Regions from separate parts of the Homo sapiens genome. Here region 2 is linked to region 1. Evidence: fine-mapped expression QTL. A gene starts in region 1. The other region holds a variant in brackets. All regions are shown on one strand. Distances are between the middles of the regions. Region 1 holds the start of ALDH7A1 (aldehyde dehydrogenase 7 family member A1). Region 2 overlaps ALDH7A1 (aldehyde dehydrogenase 7 family member A1).

Evidence for each region.
Region 2: its variant is fine-mapped to the expression of ALDH7A1 in visceral fat (GTEx, PIP 0.96).

What each region holds. Positions count from the first base shown.
Region 1 is chr5:126,589,096-126,601,059 of GRCh38, reverse strand. ALDH7A1 (aldehyde dehydrogenase 7 family member A1) reads left to right here and starts at 5,841. Exons shown (of 18, transcript NM_001182.5): 1 at 5,841-6,053; 2 at 7,656-7,709; 3 at 8,331-8,396. The coding sequence starts at 5,862. PHAX (phosphorylated adaptor for RNA export) reads right to left here and starts at 113. Exons shown (of 5, transcript NM_032177.4): 1 at 2-113. The coding sequence starts at 97. RefSeq lists enhancers at 1-181, 182-1,031 and silencers at 66-275, 3,374-3,537.
Region 2 is chr5:126,530,727-126,542,690 of GRCh38, reverse strand. It overlaps ALDH7A1 (aldehyde dehydrogenase 7 family member A1), which reads left to right. Exons shown (of 18, transcript NM_001182.5): 18 at 1-850. Among named protein-coding and RNA genes, the nearest start is that of ALDH7A1, 59 kb to the left of the region's middle. The variant G/A (reference allele first, on the strand shown) is at 4,974.

The DNA.
Region 1 (11,964 bases):
CTGGCAATTGCAGCGGCCTGTCGCTGGGTGCGACCGTCATGTCGGAATCCGAGTCGGAAAGCTGCCCATCTTCCATATCGCCGACCTCCAACGCCATCTTCCCGCGGTGCGCTGCGCTGCACAGCGGCGGGTCAGGAGAGCACTTCCGGCGGGGCAGCCGGAAGGCCCGGCGGCTCGGCTGCTCGGGCGCCCCCGCGCGGAGGCCAGCCTGTCCCAGCGGCCTGAGGCGTCCCATTGCATTCCAACTACCCCGGGAAAATGAATCCCTTGTTCCCCCAACACTTTTCTTCCAAACTTTATTTTCGTGCAAACATAAATATGTCACGTATCGCGGTCGTCTGGGATTCCTCCCTTGGCCGTACATCCTTCCCCTGTATGCTCTGGACAAGCCTCCCCGCTTCTGTTCTTGCTCCTCCACAATCCACTCTACATATTGCTTCCAGGGAAGCCTTTCAAGCTGTATAGTCCGCCCTCTGTATCCACTCCCCATCCACGGATGCCGAACCTGCGGATGGGAAGGACCCACCGTGCACCCCCACATAATGTAAGGGGCTTGAGCATGGCGGATGTTGGTATCTGTGGGGGTCCTGAAAACAATGACCCGCGGATACCTAGGGAGGATTGTACCTTAGCTCGAATCTTCCAAGTGCATCCCTCCCCAAAACAAGGACTGAGTTCTCAGCATGGTGTTTGAAATGTTTGTTTTCCGGTGTCGTAAAGAAATAGCAACATAAATTTAACTTACTGAATAAGGCCATTTTTACTTTCTGCAGAAAGGGTACACTCGCCAGCAGTTTTGCCAGGAGAGTACACTGAACAAAAGGAGACAGGGTCATTTATAACCTGACGTGTTTACCTTACTGCTGTGGCTGGTTTTTATTGGCTGGACCGGACCTCACATTTTGTATTTGTCCCGATTGGCTAGCAACTTAGAACTTTTTAAAAGAGGCAAAGGTAGAGGAGAACAAAGGAAGGAGGAAGTAACTTGTGGAATGCTGAGAAAGATGAAAACACTTTTAAATAAGGAAGAGGAACAGGCTATGACCTAATGCTTGCTTGGACTAGTAAAAGCATGCCAGGGCAAATATTTAGGCTAAATTGTGGGAGCTAAGAACATAAAGTACATTTTTTTTTATTATGGCTAGCAGATATTTAAGAATGTTAGCACAGATCTTTGAATAAATTTTGCTTTTAAGAGAAGTTACTATTTATTCCTAATTAGACGGGGAGGAAAGTTTTTGAAGAGGAACCTCTGTTTTACTTTGCCACATGGCAAACAAGGTCATGTGGACTGGGCATCTGGTCACTGGTCCTAGTGTGTCCCCCTGCCTAACCGCTGGCGCGCTGAACCTGTTGTTCCTCAGGCCAGGCCTCTGCATTTGCTGTTCACTCGGCCTGAGAGGCCCTTCCCTCAACCCACCCCATTCTTTAAGGGTTATCTTGGAACCCGCCTTTGCGAAAATTATAACAGTGAGAAAATTATGGCAGTGGGAGAGATCTGATCTAGCCAACCCCTATCTTGCTTTTAGCCTTCAAGCTGCCCTTAATTATTCCTGTGCTTGGGCCTGTCAATGTAACTTTGGGAGACATTTAGTTTATAGTTTAAATGATAATAACCCTTCCCCAAAAGCCAACCGCCTTTGTAAAGCTAGTAAGAGACCACCAGGGTAGACGGATAAAGGAGGCTGAATTCTGCTAAGGTGTAGACATAAACCGTTGCCAGTCATTATCCCAGAGGTCACAAGGTATGCAACTTTTCCATTACTCTTCCAGATAATATCACTATTGTAGACCCTAAGATTGGCGTTTTGAGATATCTTTTCAGATATTTTGCATGTCTGACTACCAATGGTTCCACCTGAACCTCTAACCGCTTCTGGGTTCCCACACAGAAGTTGTCGAGCTGCTTGAGGACAATTTCCCATACCCCTATGACTGCATCCCCAACCAATAAGCAGCAAGAACCCATTGCTTAGCCACTCCATCCCTTCCCCAAACTATCTTTGAAAAACACTAGTCCCTGAATTCTCCAAGAGATTGATTTGAGTAATAACTCTGTCTCCCACGTGGCATGGGTGGCCTCCTGTCTATTAAATTCTTTCTTCTTTTTGAGACAAGAGTTTTGCTCTGTCTCCTAGGCTACAGTGCAGTGGCAAAATCTCGGCTCACTGCAGCCTCTGCCTCCTGGGTTCAAGCGAGTCTCATCCCTCAGCCTCCCGAGTAGCTGGGATTACAGGCATGCACCACCAGGCTCGGCTAATTTTTGTATTTTTAGTAGAGACGGGGTTTGACCATGTTGGCCAGGCTGGTCTTGAACTCCTGACCACCCTGACTCCTGATCTACCCTCCTTGGCCTCCCAAAGTGCTGGAACTACAGGCGTGAGCCACAGCACCTGGCTCCTCTGCCACTTTTAATACAGAACTGTTTTAAGGTGTCCTGAGTTTAGCCACTGCATTTTCATTTCTACAGGGCTTTGCAGTTTTCAAAGTGCTTTCATATATGATTCATTTAATTCTGTCTCTTCCTGCTCAACCTCATTACAATTCATCATTTCTGATTTTTCCTGAACTCCTGTTAAGCAGGGCTAACAGGAGTTTTGAAAAAAGGATGTAGAAGAAGGATGCAATCCCTGTTTTCAATGTGAGCAGTTGCTGGTGCCTATATTCCCAGAATTGGCTTATTTATTTTTTGAGACAGGGTCTTGCTCTGTCCCCCAGGCTGGAGTGCAATGGTATGATCTTGGCGCTCTGCAACCTCCATCTCCTGGGTTTAAGCGATTCTCCAGGCTCAGCCTCCCAAGTAGCTGGGACTATAGACGTGTACCACCACATCCAGCTAATTTTTGTATTTTTAGTAGAGATGGGGTTTCACCACGTTGGCCAGGCTGGTCTCGAACTTCTGATCACTCAAGTGATCCTTCCATCTTGGCCTCCCAAAGTTCTGGGATTACAGCTATGAGCCACTGTGCCCAGCCAGCCAGAATTGGTTCAGAAGGATGGGCACACTTCTCTTCTTGACTTGAAGAGAGGGCAGCCAACACTCCTTGATGACACTATGTGTTGCTCCTAATCCTTTGTGCCTCTATGTATTTTAATTTCGTTGAAGTGAATGGAAGAGAAGAGAAGGAAGAATGTGGTTTTGGGATATGTGGACAAATAATCTTGTTGGCTGATAGAAAGTGATGAGAATCAGTTAAAATGTCTGAGAATTAGCCGGGCGCGGTGGCTCATGCCTGTAATCCCAGCACTTTGGGAGGCCAAGGCGGGCGGATCACGAGGTCAGGAGATCGAGACCATCCTGGCCAACGTGGTGAAACCCTGTCTCTACTAAAAATTGAAAAATTAGCCAGGTGTGGTGGTGAGTGCCTGTAGTCCCAGCTACTCAGGAGGCTGAGGCAGGAGAATCACTTGAACCCGGGAGGCGGAGGTTGTGGTGAGCCAAGATTGCACCACTGCACTCCAGCCTGGGGACAGAGTGAGACTCCGTCTCTAAATAAATAAATAAATAAATAAATAAAGTCTGAGAATTAAAATTAGAAAAATTAGCACCATGGTCCTCCGTGTAGATGGAAGACAGCAGCAGGGTTGTTGATAGAGATTACCAATGTCAGATAGGGCATTGCAACTCCTTCGACGGTGTTATTCATTGGTTCATTTGTTCATATACTCATGTAAGTGAGCGTAAACTTGGAACAATGCTAGGAACTGTGGAGCAATGCAAAGATGAGTCAGAGATGGTCCTTGCCCTAACAGGAAAAAACTGTAGCATTTACAAAAGGAAGCATCATTCATGTATGCCTAGTACTAACTGCAGTTTCTGGTAGCTGCTTGATACATGCAGAGTGTTTGTTCAAATCATTTGTACTATAAGGGTGGAAGAGATAAAGCTTATGTTTGAATGCAGAGATGAAAGGGGCCAGGAGTGGTGGCTCAAGCCTGTAATCCCAGCTCTTTGGGAGGCGCAAGGCAGATCCCTTGAGCCGAGGAGGTGCGGACCAGCCTGGGCAACATGGGGGAACCCTGTCTCTACAAAAAATCCTCAAAAATTAGCTGGGTGTGATGGCATGCCTGTAGTCCCAGCTACTTGGGAGGTTGAGGTAGGAGGATCACTAGAGCCTCGGAGGTCGAGGCTTCAGTAAGCCATGATCCTGCCACTGCACTCTAGCGTGGGCAAGCATATTTTAAACTCATGTTCAAATAATGATGATTGAGATATTAGTATTTCCGTTTTACAGGGTAGGCCCAGTTGTTGTGAAATGAGATGGGGCATGCATGAATGGAAAGGATATTGTAGGAAGACAGAAATGGAGAATGAAAGAAATTGATCAAAACTGTCTTTATTCTTTAAGAGTAAGAGCTGGGCGTGGTGGCTCACACCTGTAATCCCAGCACTTTGGGAGGCTGAGGTGGGCGGATCACGAGGTCAGGAATTCGAGACCAGTCTGGCCAACATAGTGAAACCCCTTCTCTACTCAAAATACAAAAAATTGGCCAAGCGTGGTGGTGGGCGCCTGTAATCCCAGCTACGCAGGAGGCTGAGGCAAGGAGAATCGCGTGAACCCGGGAGGCGGAGGTTGCAGTGAGCCGAGATTGCGCCACTGGACTCCAGCCCTGGCAACAGTGCGAGACTACGTCTCAAAAAAAAAAAAAAAATGTAAGAATAGGCCGGACACAGTGGCTCACGCCTGTAATCCCAGCACTTTGGGAGGCAGAGGCGGGCAGATCACGAGGTCAGGAGTTCGAGAGCAGCCTGGCCAACAGGGAGAAACCCCGTCTCTACTAAAAATACAAAAATTAGCTGGTGTGGTGGTGTGCACCTGTAATCCCAGCTACTGGGGAGGCTGAGGCAGGAGAATCACTTGAACCTGGGAGGTTGAAGTTGCAGTGAGTGGAGATCGTGCCATTGCACTCCAGCCTGGGCGATAGGGCGAGACTCCATCTTAAAAAAAAAAAAGTAAGAGGCCGGGCGCAGTGGCTCATGTCTCTAATCCCAGCACTTTCGGAGGCTGAGGCGGGCAGATCATCTCAGGTCAGGAGTTCCAGACCAGCCTGACTAACATGGTGAAACCCCGTTTGTCCTAAAAATACAAAAAATTAGCCGGGTGTGGTGGTGCACACCTGTAATCCCAGCTACTCAGGAGGCTGAGGCAAGAGAATCCGCTTGAACCCGGTAGGCGGAGGTTGCAGTGAGCCGAGATCGCGCCGTTGCACTCTAGCTTGGGCAAGAAGAGCGAAACTCCGTTTCCAAAAAAAAAAAAAAAAAAAAAAAGTAAGAATATACCCAGGCAGGATATTTATAGAGGAAATGCAGCAATCTAATATTTATCATTAATTAGAAAACTTTAATTTGTAATCTACCAAAACAGTGAAAACAACCAACCCTTCCCCCGCCCCCCAATACAAACCCTCCGTTGCCTACTCCAGGGACAAGAGGCGTCACCATCGCTGAGGAGCTGGTTAGGAATGTCGGCTCTCCGACCCTAGCCCAGACTTACTGAATCAGAATGTGCATTTACCACGACGACCAGGTCATTACACGCATTTTACAGTTTCAGAACCCCTGCTATAGCCTACTGTACTTCAGCGCCAATATTTTGCTGAAAAGAATTCCCAGCTGGAACTGTGGCTCCCGGAGTCTTTCACCAGATGGCAGCAGCCCACTCCTCCCTGTAGCACTCCCATTGTTCCAGGCAGGATTCAGCCGCAGGCTCCTCCGGAAGACCAGGGGCAGACGGGGCGGTGGCGGGGTCGTGCCCAGTGGGAGGGGTCGGGTCTGCCCAATGGGTTCTCCCGGGCGGGGGGCGGGGCTCTATTTCAGCAGCTCTCAGGGCCTTGGGCTCATCCCGAGTCCCGGGCTCAGTATGTGGCGCCTTCCTCGCGCGCTGTGTGTGCACGCTGCAAAGACCAGCAAGCTCTCTGGACCTTGGAGCAGGCCTGCCGCCTTCATGTCCACTCTCCTCATCAATCAGCCCCAGTATGCGTGGCTGAAAGAGCTGGGGCTCCGCGAGGAAAACGAGGGCGTGTATAATGGAAGCTGGGGAGGCCGGGGAGAGGTACGCGGGCGCTCAAGAAATCTCTGCAGCCGCCGGGGCTCGCTCGAGGAGGCCGGGCGGGCACTGACCTACCGACTCCCCGCTGGCGCTGGATGCGGTAGTAGCATGGGAGATTTTGAAGCTCCACAGTAAAAGTTTTCTCGTGTAGGGTGCCTTTAAAACAAAAACTTAGATTTTAGGTCCTTGTGTGCTATGCAGAATCGACGTCATTTTGGAGCTGTAGGGGCTAAACTTCCCGCGCATATTTAAAACATTATGGTCTACCGGGCGCGGTGGCTCACCCCTGTAATCCCAGCACTTTGGGAGGCCTAGGCGGGCGGATCACCTGAGGTAGCGAGTTCAAGACCAGCCTGACCGACATGGAGAAACCTTGTCTCTACTAAAAAAAATACAAAATAGCCGGGCGTGGTGGCGCATGCCTGTAATCCCAGCTACTAGGGAGGCTGAGGCAGGAGAATCGCTTGAACCCGGGAGGTGGAGGTCGTAGTGAGCCGAGATCGTGCCATTGCACTCCAGCCTGAGCAACAAGAGCGAAATTCCGTCTCAAAAAAAAAAAAAAAAAAAAAAATTAAAACCTTATGGTCTTGGGATCTATGGTCTTGTGAGAAATGTGGCACACTGAGCGGTGCAACTGATCTTAATTTAGAGCTTAACTCTGGCTCTTCAGCTGTGACGTGCACCGCAGGTAACGTTCTTCAGTGTAGTTTTAAGTTATCTTCCTTCCTGAATTCTTTGGGAGTTTGCAAGCTTGGACGTGCCGAAATCTTGCCATGTTGTACGTTGGGCTGTGAACTCCTTTGAGGACTGGATTTTCAGCATTTCTCCATTGCCCAGGGCTTAACACCGCGCCTGATACCCATTACTGCTCAAAACAATGTTTTATAGAATACAATGGAAAGGTAAGGTTATTATCGCCCAGATTTTTTTTTAAAAGAAAGTTTTTTATAGGAGGATGTTATGTAACAGTTAACAAACTTTGTTGGACGTTGTATATTATATAATGAACCTGCCTTGGTAGAGGGAACACGTCTTTTGGTAATCAGTGGCTGTAGGAGATACAGATAATTTTAATTGCTCCTCAGACCTCGGTGTTTCATCCTGATTTCCGTGTGGTATCTGATCATTAGGCTCTTGGAGGCCTTTTTAGCTGTGCCTTGATTTTCCCTTTCATTGTTGACCTGAGACCTCTCCAGTTGGTGTGGACACGGGACTTTCCAACAGTTTTCCTGCCTTGGCCATTTCATCTCTGAGCAGAGGGTGGGCAGAGTAAGGAAGAGAAGAAATAACTAAAACTAGTCAGTTTGGTCTGTTATTAATGGAAAAAGAGACAAAATAACTGCTTATGTTAAGGCTTTTGTTTATATGCCTAATATTGAGATGTCAGAGGCGAGTTTTGCAGAAAGGTAGTTTCTAATGTTTAAGTCAGAAATGAAAGACAACCTCTGTAGAGTGGTTTATATGTAACAGAAGTTAACCTAAGCTTTTTGAGTTTGGGTATTATATCATTTTTTCCTCTCTTGTTTTTCTTCCCCGTTTGGTCTATTCCCTTACTTCAAAAGGGATTACGTTTTCTATACATGATCATCATCCTTTTGTTTTAAGGTTATTACGACCTATTGCCCTGCTAACAACGAGCCAATAGCAAGAGTCCGACAGGTAAGAGTGTGTGTGTGTGTGTGTGTGTGTGTGTGTGTGTGTTTAATTCAAATTATACACAAGGAGTTTGTGCAGGCTTTCTTTAGAGGCAGAAGCCAGTTAGGCAGGTCAAGAATAATATAAAATCACAAATGAAGAGAATAATGTGTTTATTTTTCATTTGTCATTTAGGACTGTCTGGGGGAGACTGTCCTCTCTTGGGTGGGGGCGTGAAAAGGAAAGAACCATAGAAAAGGTGAAGCGTAGAAAGATTAGGCAGGGGGCCATTTAAGGCAGTGCTTCTGAAGTACCTGAGGATTTTGTTAGAATGAAGCTTCTGATTTCCGAAGTCTGGGTTGGAGCTCAAGGTTCTGCATTTCTAATATGCCTTACATGTTCCCAGATGAAGCTGACAGATTTTGCTTTGAAAAGCAAGGTTTTAAAGCATAGTTGGATACCAACCTGTTTTACCGGGTTCTAGCTAGTTTTTGGAAGTATAGACTGTGGGAATCATTCTCAGCCATAAATGTTAGGGAACCCTAGAGATTTCCCAACTCTTTTCTGAAAATATTTTTGTGTTCTAGAAGATCATCATCATTTCTCTTTATTTCCCCCTTTCTGTCCCCCTAATTCTTAATTTAGGCCAGTGTGGCAGACTATGAAGAAACTGTAAAGAAAGCAAGAGAAGCATGGAAAATCTGGGCAGATGTAAGTATGGCCTTTGTTTCTAGAATTCAGAAAAGATCACTTTGCCTATTGTAACCAATGAGATACATAAACATCTGATAAGCAGGTCAGTGCCGCCTTGTTAAAATGTGAGCTCCTTGGGGGCTGTGATACTGTACTAGGGCTCCTGCTGTTTTGGAAACACCTCTGCCATATTTCTAGGGTAGTGCCTTTTTTGTACTTGCCATTCATTGAATGGATAAATTTAAATGAATTAAAACTTTGTGCTGGTATAGTATAAACTTGAGCTGTGAACACTATTCTTCACTGAAATTACTTGAATTTATAATTAAATAGAAAATGAATAGAAGATCTATGCCAGAAATATTTGTTTGCTCCTCCTCTATCCCCCTGCCAGATTTGTCTGGGAGTATCTCAGCAATAGGTCAGCATTCCTGGTTTAAAGAACAACAGCAGATCGCACCTGGTGGCTCATGCTTGTGATCCCACCACTTCAGGAGGCTGAGGCGGGTGGATCATCTGAGGTCAGGAGTTCGAGACCAGCCTGGCCAACATGGTGAAACCCTGTCTCTAGTAAAAATACAAAAATTAGCCGAATGTGGTGGCGCGTGTAATCCAGCCTACTCAGGAGGCTGAGGCAGGAGAATTGCTTGAGCTTGGGAGGCGGAGGCTGCAGTGAGCCAAGATAGCATCACTGCACTCCATCCAGCCTGGGCGACAGAGTGAGACTCCATCTCAAAAAAAAAAAAAAAAAAAAGAGCAGTGGCAGCATCCCTTTCTCAGGGCCAGAGGCTCATGTTCCTTGACTGTCTAATCAGGCTGTGAGGCAGAGTCAGCCTCCTTGGTCTCTGAGTCTCCACCATTGGTTAAATGAGCAAATGTGGGAACTGTGACTGGTGCTGGGCTGGCCACACTGACTTGTCACTAGGTGGGAGCTAGGCTCCTGAGAAGGGGAGAGTAAAGGCGAACTAGGATAGCCTGATTTCCCAACCTTTCCACTACCCCCATCCTCAGTGTGCTTTGTCTTGTAAAAAGAAAAGACTGGGGGTGCCTGTCTCCTGGGAGGGTTAAATGAGTTAATCATTTAAAGTGCTTACTGGAGAGCCTGGCACAGGAAAAGCCTCAATACATTTGAGTTAAACCCTGTGCTGTTGGGTGTGGGACTGCTGAGGGACTACTGAGCTGCAGTATTTTCTCTGAGTGAGTGATTGCAAGGGGGGTTGGGTGGGGTTGGGGTGGATTGCAGAGTAGCAGCCTGTCCAACAGAGCCCTGGGTTGGATGAAGCTTTTTTTTTTTATCAGCCAAGATACGTCTTTGTGTAAAGCATGAAGCACATCTTTCCTCTACTTTAATTATGGATAGAAGTATGGCCTAGGGTTCCATTATACACAATCAAAAGTATCCTTGGGCAGAAAAATACCACTTCCACAAGTAAACAGTGTGCTAGGTAAAGTTCACCCTACCTGGATAGAGAATACTGTCCAAAACAGTGTCCTTCATTGTTTTAAAAACTTACTTGTATTTATTTCTGATCATAAAAGTAATAAATATTCTTTTTTTTTAGAAAAGATTGATGCTGTAAATAAGATAAACAAATTTAGTCCCCTTACCCCAACCTCTGCAATGCAAAATGTTCATTAGGTTTAGGTTTTGGTGCATTTCCTTCCAGTCTTTCATGTATTTATTTCATAGTTGTGATTATTGTACATCCATATATACATGGTGTGTATAAAATTTTGTGACCTGTGATGCTTGCATTCCATACCATCCTAAAGTTATTGCTTTTTTTTTTTTTTTTTAAGACAGGGTCTGGCTCTGTCACCCAGGCTGGAGTGCAGTGGCCCAATCTTGGCTCACTGTAACCTCTGCCTTCTGGGCCTGGGATCCTCCCATCTCAGCCTCCCAAGTGGCTGGGATTACACGTACACACCACCATGCCTGGCTAATTTTTTTGTATTTTTTGTAGAGGTGGGGTTTCACCATATTGCCCAGGGCGGTCTCGAACTCCTAAGTTCAAACGATCTGCCCTCTTTGGCCTCCCAAAGTGCTGGGATTACAGGCGTGAACCACCAGGCCCAGCTGCATAATTTTTTTTAAATTGTTGTTTTCCTATACATACATACTTTTTTCTTTTGAGACGGAGTCTCACTCTGTCACTCTGCAGTGGTGTGATCTCAGCTCACTGCAACCTCTGCCTTTCGGGTTCAAGTGATTCTCCTGCCTCAGTCTCCCAAGTAGCTGAAACTACAGGTGTGCGCCACCAGGCCTGGCTAATTTTTTTAAAAAATATATTCTCCAATTTAAAACTTTTAATTAAAAAGTAAACTTTAACATCAAAAATGCAAACTTGGAGAAGACAGAAAAGATCACACACAAGGCTGTCACTTCACACTTGGAAGGTTGCACAGCGGCCAGGCAGAGGGGCTCCTCACTTCCCAGACAGGGCAGCGGCCGGGCAGAGGCGCTCCTCACTTCCCAGACAGGGCGGTGGCCGGGCAGAGGCGCTCTTCACTTCCCAGACAGGGTGGCGGCCGGGCAGAGGCGCTCTTCACTTTCCAGACGGGGTGGCAGCTGGGCAGAGGTGCTCCTCACTTCCCAGACAGTGGCAGCTGGGCAGAGGCGCTCTTCACTTTCCAGACGGGGCGGCAGCTGGGCAGAGGCACTCCTCACTTCCCAGACAGTGGGCAGCTGGGCAGAGGCGCTCCTCACTTTCCAGATGGGGCAGCAGCTGGGCAGAGGCACTCCTCGCTTCCCAGACATTGGGCAGCTGGGCAGAGGTGCTCCTCACTTCCCAGACAGTGGGCAGCTGGGCAGAGGCGCTTCTTACTTCCCAGATGGGGCGGCAGCTGGGCAGAGGTCCTCCTCACTTCCCAGATGGTGGGCAGCCGAGCAGAGGCGCTCCTCACTTCCCAGTCAGTTGGGTGGCTGGGCAGAGGCACTCCTCACTTCCCAGATGGTGGGGCGGCCGGGCAGTGGCGCTCCTCACATCCCAGATGGGGCGGTGGCTGGGCAGGGCGCTCCTCACTTCCCAGACGGAGTGGCAGGCCTGGCTAATTTTTGTATTGTTAGTAGAGACAGGGTTTCACCATACTGGCCAGGTTGGTCTCGAACTCCTGAACTCGTGATCCACCCACCTTGGCCTCCCAAAGTGTTTGGATTACAGGCGTTAGCCACTTCACCTGGCCTTCCTATACATATATACTTAAAAAAAACAAAAACAAAAAAATAGACCAGGCACGATGGCTCACGCCTGTAATCCCAGCACTTTGGGAGGCCAAGTGGGCGGATCACCTGAGGTTGGGAGTTCGAGACCAGCCTGACCAACATGGAGAAACCCCGTTTCTACTAAAAATACAAAATTAGCCAGGCATGGTGGTGCGCGCCTGTAACCCCAGCTACTTGGGAGGCTGAGGCAGGAGAATCACTTGAACCTGGGAGGCCGACCTTGCAGTGAGCGGAGATTGAGCCATTGCACCCCAGCCTGGGCAACAAGAGCAAAACTCTGTCTCAAAGGAAAAAAGAAATTAATAGACTTTTATTTTTTACAGCAGTTTTAAATTTACAGAAAAACGAGTAGAAAGTACAGAA
Region 2 (11,964 bases), 58 kb after region 1:
TGCTCTGCAACCACAGAACACTTCTTTTTTTTTGGTGTCTCAGTTTTGCCCACACTGGAGTGCAGTGGTGCAATAGTGGCTCACTGCAGCCTCCAACTCCTGGGCTCAATCTATCCTTCCACCTCATGCTCCCCAGTAGCTGGGACTACAGGTGCATGCCACTGTGCCCAGCTGATTATTATTTTTTTTTGTAAAGATTGGGTCATACTACATTGCTCATGCTCGTCTTGAACTTGTGGCCTCAAGCGATCCTCCTGCCTCAGCCTCTTGAGTTGTTGGGATTACAGGAGTGTGCCACCATGCCCAGCTCTGTGGAAAATTCTCTGTGGCATTCTGTCTCCTGAAAATGCTGAAGGGACCAAGAGGGCTCTGTGTCCTTCCTCTTCTCTTCCCTGGCACTTTCAGACCATTTTCTTGTTGCCTTCATTCTAACAAAGGTTGCAGATTGGAAAGCTGATTTGGAATGCTTTTTAAGTGTTTTCAGTTTCAATATTTTTATGAAATTCCTATGGTCTCCAACAAACTTTTTTTTTTTTTTTTTTTTCTACACCTGGAGCTTATCCTGCAGAAGCTTCCTGCCAATGATTGTTTTGGAGGAAATTAAAAGAAAACCAAACGAAACCTCTCCTATCCAAGGGGAAGAACTTTATCCCCATATTGATTGAATATAGGATTCTAGATTTAAAATGTTGTAGGCAGTTAGAGTTTGCTCTTTTTTTTTTTCTATTGGAAAGGTCCACAAATGTTTTATTGACATTTTTGTCTTTAATCCATTTGGATTTGGGGTACATGTTACGATTTGTCTACGTTAATTTCCCTTTTAAAAATAAAAATAATTCCTCAACTCCAATTAGACAATTGGGTTGTCCTTTTCACACTGATACCTCTTTTATAGTACACTGCATTCTTACATATAACAGGATCTGTTTTTAGCTGTGTATCCTGATTCAGTAATTGGTATATGTGTGTGTGTATATAGATAAATAGAATGCCATTTCCCTGTGCAGACGGAAGGGCAAGCTTATTCCCTTTTCTGCGACTACATCTCCTGTCAGGTGTCGCCTCTGCTGTGGCTCTATAGGATTCTGTTAGATAGTGGTGGTCATTGCACAACTCTACAAATATACTAAATGCTACTCAATTGCTCATTTTAAAATGGTTAAAATGGTGAGTTTTATGTTGTATTTTACAATAAGAGAAAAAAACATACAAAGCAAATTAAGCAATAAAAAGGGCAGTTACTAACTCCAGGGAAAATAACATTTGATTCTGTGATCTTTTAAATTTCTTCTACTTAAATTGTTTTAGAGTTCTACATATATTAGCCATGTGACCTGCAAAAAGTAACCTAATCTCTTTGAACTTCATTTTCTTGTCTGTAACGTGGGTTGTATCAGTTCGGTTTCTTTGTGGCAAGCTGCGGAAACCAATTATGGCTTTAGCAAACATGGTCTGTTTTGGAAAGCCCAGATCCAATTTGCCTCTCCAGAACCACTCTCTGACATTCTCCTGCAGTGTGTCCTTAGGGACTGATCTCTACGGTCCACTTCATCTGGGCTTGCTTTATCCTCTGGCTTCTGATTGTGTTTGGCCAGTGGTAGAAAATCAGAGCAGAAAAAAAAATGTCAGAGTATTAATTTTCCCACTCCTTCCCTGCCAGTCTGTGGTAGTTACTGTCTTTTTTTTTTTTTTTTTTTTTAAGGAAAATGTACACAAAGCGTGTTTATTGGGATGATTTCTCATTCATCCTGATCACGGTTGCTGCTTCCTCCTAAGGAACATTCTTCTGTAAGCTTTGCTTGTCCTTCTGTAGGCTGATAGGACAGTGGAACAGCCAACACACACAACTTTGGGCATGACGAAAGAGCATGGTGACTTGATAGCATCCTGGTCATTTCACATCCATGAAGAAGGAATTGGTTCGTCACCAGGAGCTTCTCATGTTTTCTGGAGAGGCATGAAGGAGATCCTTCTCTAGAGACATCTCGCTGGAAAGCTTATTCCTTTTTCTGTGTCTACATCTCCTGTTAGATGGCCCCTCTGCTGTGGCTCTGTAGATTCTACTAACATGACTCCTTTTTTTTATTCTTTAGTCTGCAAGTGGAGATGGAATTCTGTTGCTATTTTCTGAGTTTGTCTCCTTACCTCTAGGGACCTAGCTAGGTAACAGGTAAAAATCAACTGTCTTGTGGAAACGCCACTGCTAGAATGAGTGAACTTCAACTGTTTTTAGGCTTTTTGTTTCTCAAAATTAAAACTGCAGGAAAGGACCAAGCAATTTGCCTAGCATGGATCATTTACCTTTAAGGTAATTTACCTGCCCCTTGGCAAGGGGAGAGCAAAGCACCTGGATTAATAGTCCTAATGCTGAAATCAAGGACAGATAATTCCCCTAAAAGAAATGAGAGTTGTTATCCTAGGTAAGAAACACAGATGCTGCTAAGCTTAAATAATCTATTTCCACTGTATGAGGATGCTGATAATATCTGTCCCATACAATTGTTAGGATTAAAGCGTAAAATTATAAAAGTTAACAGTGCCTGGTAAGTTCATGATAAGGGCTCAATAAATGTTGGGTACTGTTATTAAGATGTTTTCCACATTCGTTTTCAGCTTTTAATATTTTAATTATTTTCCTAAATAAAATTTAGAAACATTTTCCAGGTTTTTAAAAAATTTCTTTGGGATTTTTATTGGACTCAAATTTATAAGTTAGGAAGAACTAATATATAATACTTAGATCTTAAAAACATCAATGATACGTATTTTGATCAAATTTTTATGGTTCCTAGCAAAATTCTGCAGTTTATTTCATGCAACGTCTTAACAACTTTTGTGTTTATTCCTATATATTTTATGATTTCGGATTTTTTTTTTTAAGTCTCTGTTGCCCAGTCTGGAGTGCAGTGGTGCTATCTCAGCTGACTGCAACCTCTGCCTCCCGGGTTCAAGTGATTCTCATACCTCAGCTTCTGGAGTAGCTGGGATTACAGGTGCGCACCACCATGCCTGGCTAATTTTTGTATTTTTAGTAGAGACAGTGTTTTGCCATGTTGGCCAGGCTGCCTTGGCCTCCCAAAGTGCTGGGATTACAGGTGTGAGCCACCGTGCCCGGCTCAGTTGTTACGGTGAATGGGATTCCCCATCTTATGCATAAATTACTGCAGAGACCAGTTACTTCCTAAGGTAGATTAGGTTTGAAAATAGAAATATAGATCCAACAACTACTCAATGTTTGCTATTTGCTTGTTGAGAATCCTTACAGCCTGGCAATTCCAGGGTTATAGAAATCTGGCCCACATTCAGATATAATTGAATTGTCTTTACAGTGTTGACCTGTAGGTGTCACTGTTGGTCAAAGCAATCATCTGTTTAGCAGGGAAGTGAGTTGTGTTGACTTTGTATCCAGGAGGTCACCATGGAAAAGTTTTTGCAGTCAACAGACAATGCCCCACATTTATGAGCTGCTTTACTTTCCAGCACCATTGGTAACTTGCCTTTCCTACTGCCTATAATTGCAGGTTTGTATCTTTTAAGTTAAAAATGTGGCTGGACGTAATGGCTTATCCCTGTAATCCCAACATTTGGGGAGGCTGAGGAGGGAGGGTTGCTTGAGCCCAGAAATTTGAGACAAGCCTAGGCAACATAGTGAGACCCTGTCCTAACAAAACAAAACTTTTTTTAAAAAAATTTTCCATCCATTCTTCTTTCCCTGCAGTGAGCATATGTGTGAGGTTATTCCATTTTGAATAACTCCATGGGTCATTCGTTTTATTTACACTTAAATGATGCTTACTGTGTTCCAGGCACTTTTAAAAGCACTTGGCAAATATAAACCCATGGAATTCTCATAACCCTAGGAAATAGATACTATTATGATCTTCACTTTATTGATTTGGAAACTGAGGCACAGAGAGGTTGAGTAACTTTCCCCAAGTCACACAGCTGATAAATGATGGGGCTGAGATTTGAATCCAAGTAGCCTGGCCTCATAGTATTCTTGTGAATGTGAATAGTGTCCCTGAAATAGCAGAGTTCTTATTTGCTCACCTTCCCTGTCTGACTCTTAATTGTTGACTTTTCCTTTTTTTTGCAGTGTCTTTTATTGTGACATAATCGTAACTTAAAGAAAAGTTGCAAGTACATAGAACTTTTCCCCCTAAATTATTTGAGAATGTTGTTGATCTGATGCCCTGTTACTCCCAAATGCTTTAGTGTATATTTCCCACAGACAAGGACATTTTCCTGCATAACTACATTACAACCATCAAAATCAGAAAATTAGGATTGATGTGTGTATTAGTCTGTTCTCACAGTGCTATAAAGAACTACCTGAGACTGAGTAATTTATGAGAAAAGAGGTTTAATTGACTCACAGTTCCACAGGCTGTACGGGAGGTGTGGCTGGGGAGGCCTCACGAAACTTATCATGGCGGAAGGCGAAGGGAAGCAGGCATGGTCTTCACGTGGTCGGAGCCGGAGGAAGAAAGTGAGGGGGGAAGAGCTACACACTTTTTTTTTTTTTTTTTTTTTTTGAGACGGAGTCTCGCTCTGTCCTCCAGGATGGAGTCCAGTGGCGTGATCTCCGCTCAGTGGTGCGATCTCTGCTCACTGCAAGCTCCGCCTCCCCTCCCGGGTTCACGCCATTGTCCTGCCTCAGCTTCCCAAGTAGCTGGGACTACAGACGCGTGCCACCATGCCCGGCTAATTTTTTTGTACTTTTAGTAGAGACGAGGTTTCACCGTGTTAGCCACGATGGTCTGGATCTCTGACCTCGTGATCCACCCACCTTGGCCTCCCAAAGTGCTGGGATTACAGGCGTGAGCCACCGCGCCCGGCCGCGCTACACACTTTTAAACCACCAGGTCTCTTGAGAACTCTATCACAAGACAGCACTATGGGGATGGCGCTAAACCATTAGAAACCACCCATATGATCCAATCAGCTTCCACCAGGCTCCACCTCCAACAATG[G/A]GGATCACAATATGTAAGATTCGGGTGGAGACACATAGCCGAATCCTATCAACGTGTTACTAATATCTAATCCTCAGATCCCGTTCAACTTTTGCCCCTTGTATGTTGTCATATCTCTTTAGTCTCTTTTAGTCTTCTCTTGACTTTCATGCTTTTGAAATTACACGCCACTTATTTCATAGATCATCCCTCGACTTGACGTTTCCTCATAATGTAATTCAGGTTGTGCATCTTAAGCCCTACACTCACAGAGAAACACCGTATTCTCACCTGCATCCTACCAGGCAGTGTGTGATGTCATTTCCGTTTGCCCATACCAATGATATTAACTTTGATTCTTGATTAAGGTGGTGTCTGCCAGCGTTCTCCCCTGTGAAACATCTCTTTTACCCTTTGTAAATTAATAGGTCTTTGTGAGGGGAGATACTTTGAAACTATGAACCTGTCCTGCTCTCCATCAAACTTTCCATTGATTCACTTATTTATATTTGTATGTACTTAAATTTTTCTATTTTATCCAATGAGTTATAATCCATTTATTACATTACTTACTTTGATGCTCGAACTAAATTTTTATATCCCTGATTTGGCCAGCAGGACTCCCTTCAAGCTGGCTTCACTGTCCTTTCAACACGTTCCTGTCCTTCTCTGAGCACTTCCTTTCTTTTTGGCACAAGATGTTCCAGGTTCAGTTTGTACTTTTCCTGCCCAAGCCCTAGAATCAGCCGTTTCTTCAAGGATCCCAGGTCTTTTTTGGTAAAGCATCATGTTTATAAGCCAGAGTCTAGTGTAGGGATGCCTGTTGATGTGGGCATGTCACTGCTCCCAGGCCCTTGCAGCTGGCAGACATTTACATCTACATTTATTTATAAATCTGTTTATATGGACAAGTGTGAGTTTACATAAAACTTCCGAATCCTATCCAACACCACAGCGTTCCTTTTTAGTTTTCCCTTTCACTATCTGCAACTCTTGTCTCTGATGAGAAACCTGCCTCACTACCCTTGATGCATTTTTTTGTAGATCACTCCTTGTGTATCACTTATCTCCCATCTCATGAGGACGCCCTCCCCACCTCTCTCCGGTTCTGATGGTGCTGGACTTGTCCTTACATGAGTGCCCTCATCACCTAGTTGAGGCTCTGACACCCATGTACAGCTCCTCTACGTGGAGGCACTCTTCTCACCCATCTAATGGCTTCAGGACTGAATTGTTTGGGAAGAGAAGAGGTAGAGAAAGAAGAACTGATCTTTCCTTAAATGCAGAATTTTGAGTCAGAATCAAAATAGTACTTGACTGCCCCATGCTTGCTCTGGGGCAGAAAGGAGAGATGCCTGGACTTAAGCTGGAAGAGTGGAATAGGAGGAGTGGGCACAGGTCCCGGAGGTAGAGCACCTGCATTCCAGGCACAGCTCTGTTTCTAAGGGGCCAAATGATCTTAGAGAAGTAATTTGATCTCTTTGTGCCCCAGCTCTTCCAATAATGAATTGGACCAAATCTAAATCAAAGACTGGTGCCCTATGGCCAAAATTGGTCTAAGTGCTTATTTTGTTTGGGAGTCAACTTCCTTTCTTTCTTTCTTTTTTTTTTTTTTTTTGAGACAGGTCTCCCACTGTTGCCCAGGCTGGAGTGCAGTGTTGTGGTCATGGCTCACTGCAGCCTTGACTGCCTGGGCTCAAGTAATCCTCCCACTTCAACCTCTCAAGTAGCTGGTACCACAGGCGCATGCCACCATGCCTGGCGAATTTTTGTATTTCTTGTAGAGATAGGGTTTTGCCATGTTTCCTAGGCTGCTCTCAAAATCCTGAGCTCAAGCAATCCACCCGCCTCAGCCTCCCAATGTGCTGGGAGTGATACAGAGAGGAGGCAGGGAGATACTGCGTAGAAGAGGGTGGTTCCCTGGCAAAGTCCCCACCCTGAAGCTTGGAAACCCACGGCCCTAAATGGGAAGAAGCATTCCTGTTTTTGTGCCCAAATGTTGCTTTTTGGCCCACCATGCCCCCCATCCTGTACCCATATAAATCCCAAACCTCAGGCTCCACGAGCAGAAGAGCAGAGGAGCATAAGAGCAGTGCAGCAGAGAAGGAGAGAAGGGAAGGAGCATCTGAATGTTGAGAGGAGTTTGCCTGGGGATGATAGGAGAGGAGATTGGCTGTGGGTCTGCCTAACTCCAGGGGAAGATCATCTTCCCACTCCATCCCCTCGCCAGGTCCCCATCCATCCCGCTGAGAGCCACCTCCATCTGGCAATAAAATCCCCCTCATTTACCATCCTTCAATTTGTCCGTGTGACCTGATTCTTCCTGGATGCCGGACAAGGACCCGGAGAGGGCACTGAGCTAGTTAACACTTAAGCCATCTGTGACGGCAGAGCTAAAAAAGTACTGTAATATGCCCACTGGGGCTTCAGAAGTTACAGGCACCCACCCCTAGATGCTACTGTGGGGTCAGAGCCCAGAAGCGCTTGCCCCAGCTCCTGCGTGCTCCCCCTCCTCTAAGGGGTTTGAGTGCACAGTGGCCGAACAGATGAGCCACATTCGGTCACACGTCTCTGAGGGGGGTCAGGGAACTCTCCCATTTCAGGATTATAGGCGTTAGCCACTGCACCAGGCCAGGAGACAACTTTCAAAAAAATCAAATTTAAGTTTCTTTAGTTGGAGGCTGTGCACTCCAATTAGCCCTAGATGGGTGACAGCTCAGACCATCTTTCCCAACTTTATACATTTCTCTCTCCAGGCTAAGTTACATTTCAAGCCTCTTCTAGCTCAGCATGGCCTCTTCTCCATTTGCTATGCTCTGGCTCAGCAGATTCTTAATCTATGGCACCAGGCCTGTCAAGAGACCTGCATTTGATTCCCAACTTTTAGCCAGGAAACACTGGGAACACCACATCTGAGTGTGTTGCTGCTGCTGGCTTGGGTGGCCAGGTTTTATTCCCTCATTTGGCCCTGCCCACATCCTGCTGATTGGTCCATTTTACAGAGTGCTGATTGGTCCATTTTAGAGTGCTGATTAGTCCATTTACAATCCTTTAGCTAGACACAGAACACTGATTGGTGAATTTACAATCCTCTAGCTAGAGAGAAAAGTTCTCTAAGTCCCCACTCCACCCAGGAAGTACAGCTGGCTTCATCTCTCAGTGTTATTGATGGAAGCGCTTAGAGCTCCCTGCTTTCTGTGTGGAGCTGGTCTAGGCCTGGACCATCCTTGGGGCACTCATTTAATTAAGCGAGGCTCAGAGGTCTGGACTGATGGGTCACCCTGATTCAAAGAGTATTTCTTCAGTAAACAGGGTCTAGGGGAAACCACATAGTCTGGGGGCTAGGGCCCCGTTTGGCAGGTCCAGGGATTGAGCAAGAATGAGCAGAGAAAGGAGACGGGGCTGTGTCTTGAGTCTATAGGCTGGGTCACTGGAGGTATGGTAGGATCTCTAGAGCTGCCTCTAATGACAGCGGAGTCTCTTCAAGAAACTTTTGAAAGGGACCAAATTCTTTTTCTGATTACCTTTCTAGCTTCTCTGGCTGAGCCCCTATGCATTGGATTGACATAGACAGATTAACAAAAGAAAACAATCAGAATTTTATTAGTATGTGCACTGCAATTACATGCGGGAACACTCAGAGATGAATAAACTCAAAGGTTTGGTTGGAACATGGGCTTATAGCATTTTAGCAAAGGACCAATACATTTTTTTTTCTTTTTTTTGAGACAGAGTTTCACTCTTGTTGTCCAGGCTGGAGTGCAATGGCACAATCTCAGCTCACCACAACCTCTGCCTCCCGGGTTCAAGCCATTCTGCTGCTTCAGCCTCCCGAGTAGCTGGGATTACAGGTGTGTGCCACCTCACCCGGCTAAGTTTTGTATTGTTGGTAGAGACGGGGTTTCATAATGTTGGCCAGGCTGGTCTTGAACTCCTGACCTCAGGTGATCTGCCTGCCTCGGCCACCCAAAGTGCTAGGATTACGGGCGTGATCTTCTCAATTGCCTTCAGCTCAAAATAATCCTTATGTCAAAGTGTCATATTTTGAGGTGGCATATTCTGCCAGCCGACAGACCCAAGAACCTTGGCTAGAATGGATTGGTCTTGGATTGCAGTGAGTTGAACCCCTGTACAGAAGTGTAGAAGAAGGAAACATCTTCTAGTTGAGTTTTAGCTTCTGTCTGTTTTGAGCTGGTGAACTCAAATTGTTCACTGAATATTTAAATTCTTTGACTTTCACCTGTGAAAATCTCCTGAATGAAATGAGATATTTGATCCTATTTAGTGGGTCACTGAACATGCTTCTAACATGAAAACATTCAGCTTTGAGCTAGGAAGGTGAGCTGTGCTCACAATCTCAAACAGGGTAGGGGAGAGAAGATTTACATGTTCTGTGCCCTGTGCCCTTTCTTGGGGCCTAGAGGACACATTGACTTATCTTTTCTGGGGATAGTATAAAGGAACATCAACTTGCTCCTATTTTGTGCTGGAGAAGCTTAGAGAATCAGATGCTAGTTTTATACTACATCCCTCAGTATTAAAAGCTTTAATTTAAAAAAGAAAAAATAACAGCTGGGCACAGTGGCTTATGCTTGTAATCCCAACACTTTGGGAGGCTGATGTGGGAGGATCGCTTGAGGTCAGGAGTTGGCGACTAGCTTGGGCAACATAGCAAGACCCTGAATCTACAAAAAGTAAACAAATTAGCCAGACGTGGTGGTGCGTGCCTGTAGTCCCAGCTACTTGGGAGGCTGAGGCGGGAGGATCCTTGAGCTCAGGAATTCAAGGTTGCAGTGAGCTATGATTGTACCATTGCACTCCAGCCTGGGTGACAGAGTGAGATGCTATCTCTGAAAATAAGTGAATAAATAGATAAAAATAAAAAAGGAAAAAAGTTCATCTTTGGCCAAATGTCAACAAAGAAAATAAAAGGAGAAAAAAAGAATTAACGATTCATTGAAAATTTTTTTTCCTTCCTTGAAGAAACAATTTGTTCCAACCTAAAAAATTATGCAAAATCATTGTAATGTTTCCCCGGTGCTTTAAATCCAGATTTCAGGTGCCCCAAAGAGAGAGATCAAGTGATTTTAACCACCTGAAATGAAAAAAAAAAAAAAAAAAAAAAGAGGCCGGGCACAGTGGCTCACGCCTATAATCCCAGCACTTTGAGAGGCCGAGGTGGGTGGATCACCTGAGGTCAGGAGTTCTAGACCAGCTGGCCAACATAGTGAAACCCCGTCTCTACTAAAAATGCTAAAACAAAAATTAGCCGGGTGTGGTGGTGCACATCTGTCTGAGGCCCAAGAATCGCTTGAACCTGGGATATGGCAGTGAGCTGAGATCACACACTGCACTCCAGCCTGGGAGACAGAGTGAGACTCCGTCTCAAAGAAAACAAAAAAGATAAATAAAAAGCATCAGACAATTTTCTATAGCTTCTAGACCATAGAACCTGCAGCAATAACTCAATGAGTTTTTATTCTCATGTTTGCCCTGTGCAAGGAGCAGACCAAGAGAAGGGATTTGCCTGCCCTTGACTTTCTCTGCCATCCACCCCAGCTGCCAGGTAAATCACAAATCATGTAGTATTTTCTGTGAATGCAGGTAAGCTTAGCACCCCTGGCCTCATTCCCTTCCTTTTATTTTTTGACCTCTACATTTAACTATGACTTTTCTGGCGAACACATTGCCTTCTTTCCTCCTCAAGGGATTTCATTTTATTCTTGCTCACCGGAAGCACAGAACCACCCCAGCTGTGGCTAGTTTAGCCTTCCCAGGGCTCTCTCCACTGTGGCCTCCCAGAACTTCTAATCTACACAAGAAGCCTGCCCTACTGTTGACATTTTATAACCTATGTGCCTCTGTGACTAAATGGCTAGAGTTATCACATCTGCTCAGTCCTGCATCTTTATTAAAAAAAACCTGGGCAATGTGCCATCCTCTCTGTCCACCAACAAGATTTTTCTCTGTGAAACGCTTTCTTTAAAGTCTGTGCACAAAAGCATAATTGTTCCCTCAGAGTTGCTAAAATGACTTGAAGGGCTTGAGTTTTTTAGTAGCTTTCAGAAACAAAAGGAGCTTTCTAACTGGACAAGCTATTCCCTCCAGCAAAGGATCCTTGGCTGAACTTTGTTTACCATATTAAGCAGCATAGCGCAAGCTGCACTGTGGCTTATTGTTAAATAGTCACTACAGAAAATTCACTTCAGGGTTATTTCTGGTTTGTTATAACATGTATTTCTTTTCTCTTGTCTGTATCGCTTAATAACAGTAAGGAAGGTTACAGAAAGCTTTTTATGACCATCCTCACCCCAAAGTCAAATTAACTTCTCCCTCCTTTTGTCCCTAACAGATGCAGCGCACCCTGATTTTTTCATGTCTGTTTCACTCACTCAGTGGACGCTCTGTGAGGGCAGGACCTTGTCTAGTTTGTTCACGCTCTCTTGCTTTCCTGTGTTCATTGAGCAAGATGCCTGGCATATAGTGTGAAATTAGTTAACATTTGTGAAGAAGCAAATAAATGGATGAATTTGTGGAGGTATTGGCTTCTTTTTATATGTTTGGTAGAATTTGGTGATGGTAGAGACAGCTATTTCCTACCCCATATCCATCCCCTCTGTTCTAGGGTGGGCACAAAGCTGCTTGGAATAAAGTCAGCCTCTTCTGCCTTCTGACTGGAGGTATGGCCAGGTGAAAAAGTAGACAGGGTTCCTGAGGACTTCTAGGCATCGCCAGACCAGCTCCGAATTGCCTACCTGTAGGCTCTTAAACTTCCATTTTGTTCATTTTTTAAAAAATCACTTGCAGCCAAATCTAGTCATAACAGGTATGTTGGTTTAACATGTGTGTCTGTGAAGACCAGGGAGAGATTGGGATAAAAAAATCTAAATCCAAGGATGGATACAATGGTCCATGCCTGTAATCACAGCATTTTGGGAGGCCAAGGAGGGAGGATAGCTTGAGCCCAGGAGTTCAAGACCAGCCTGGGTAACATAGTGAGATCCTGTTTCTA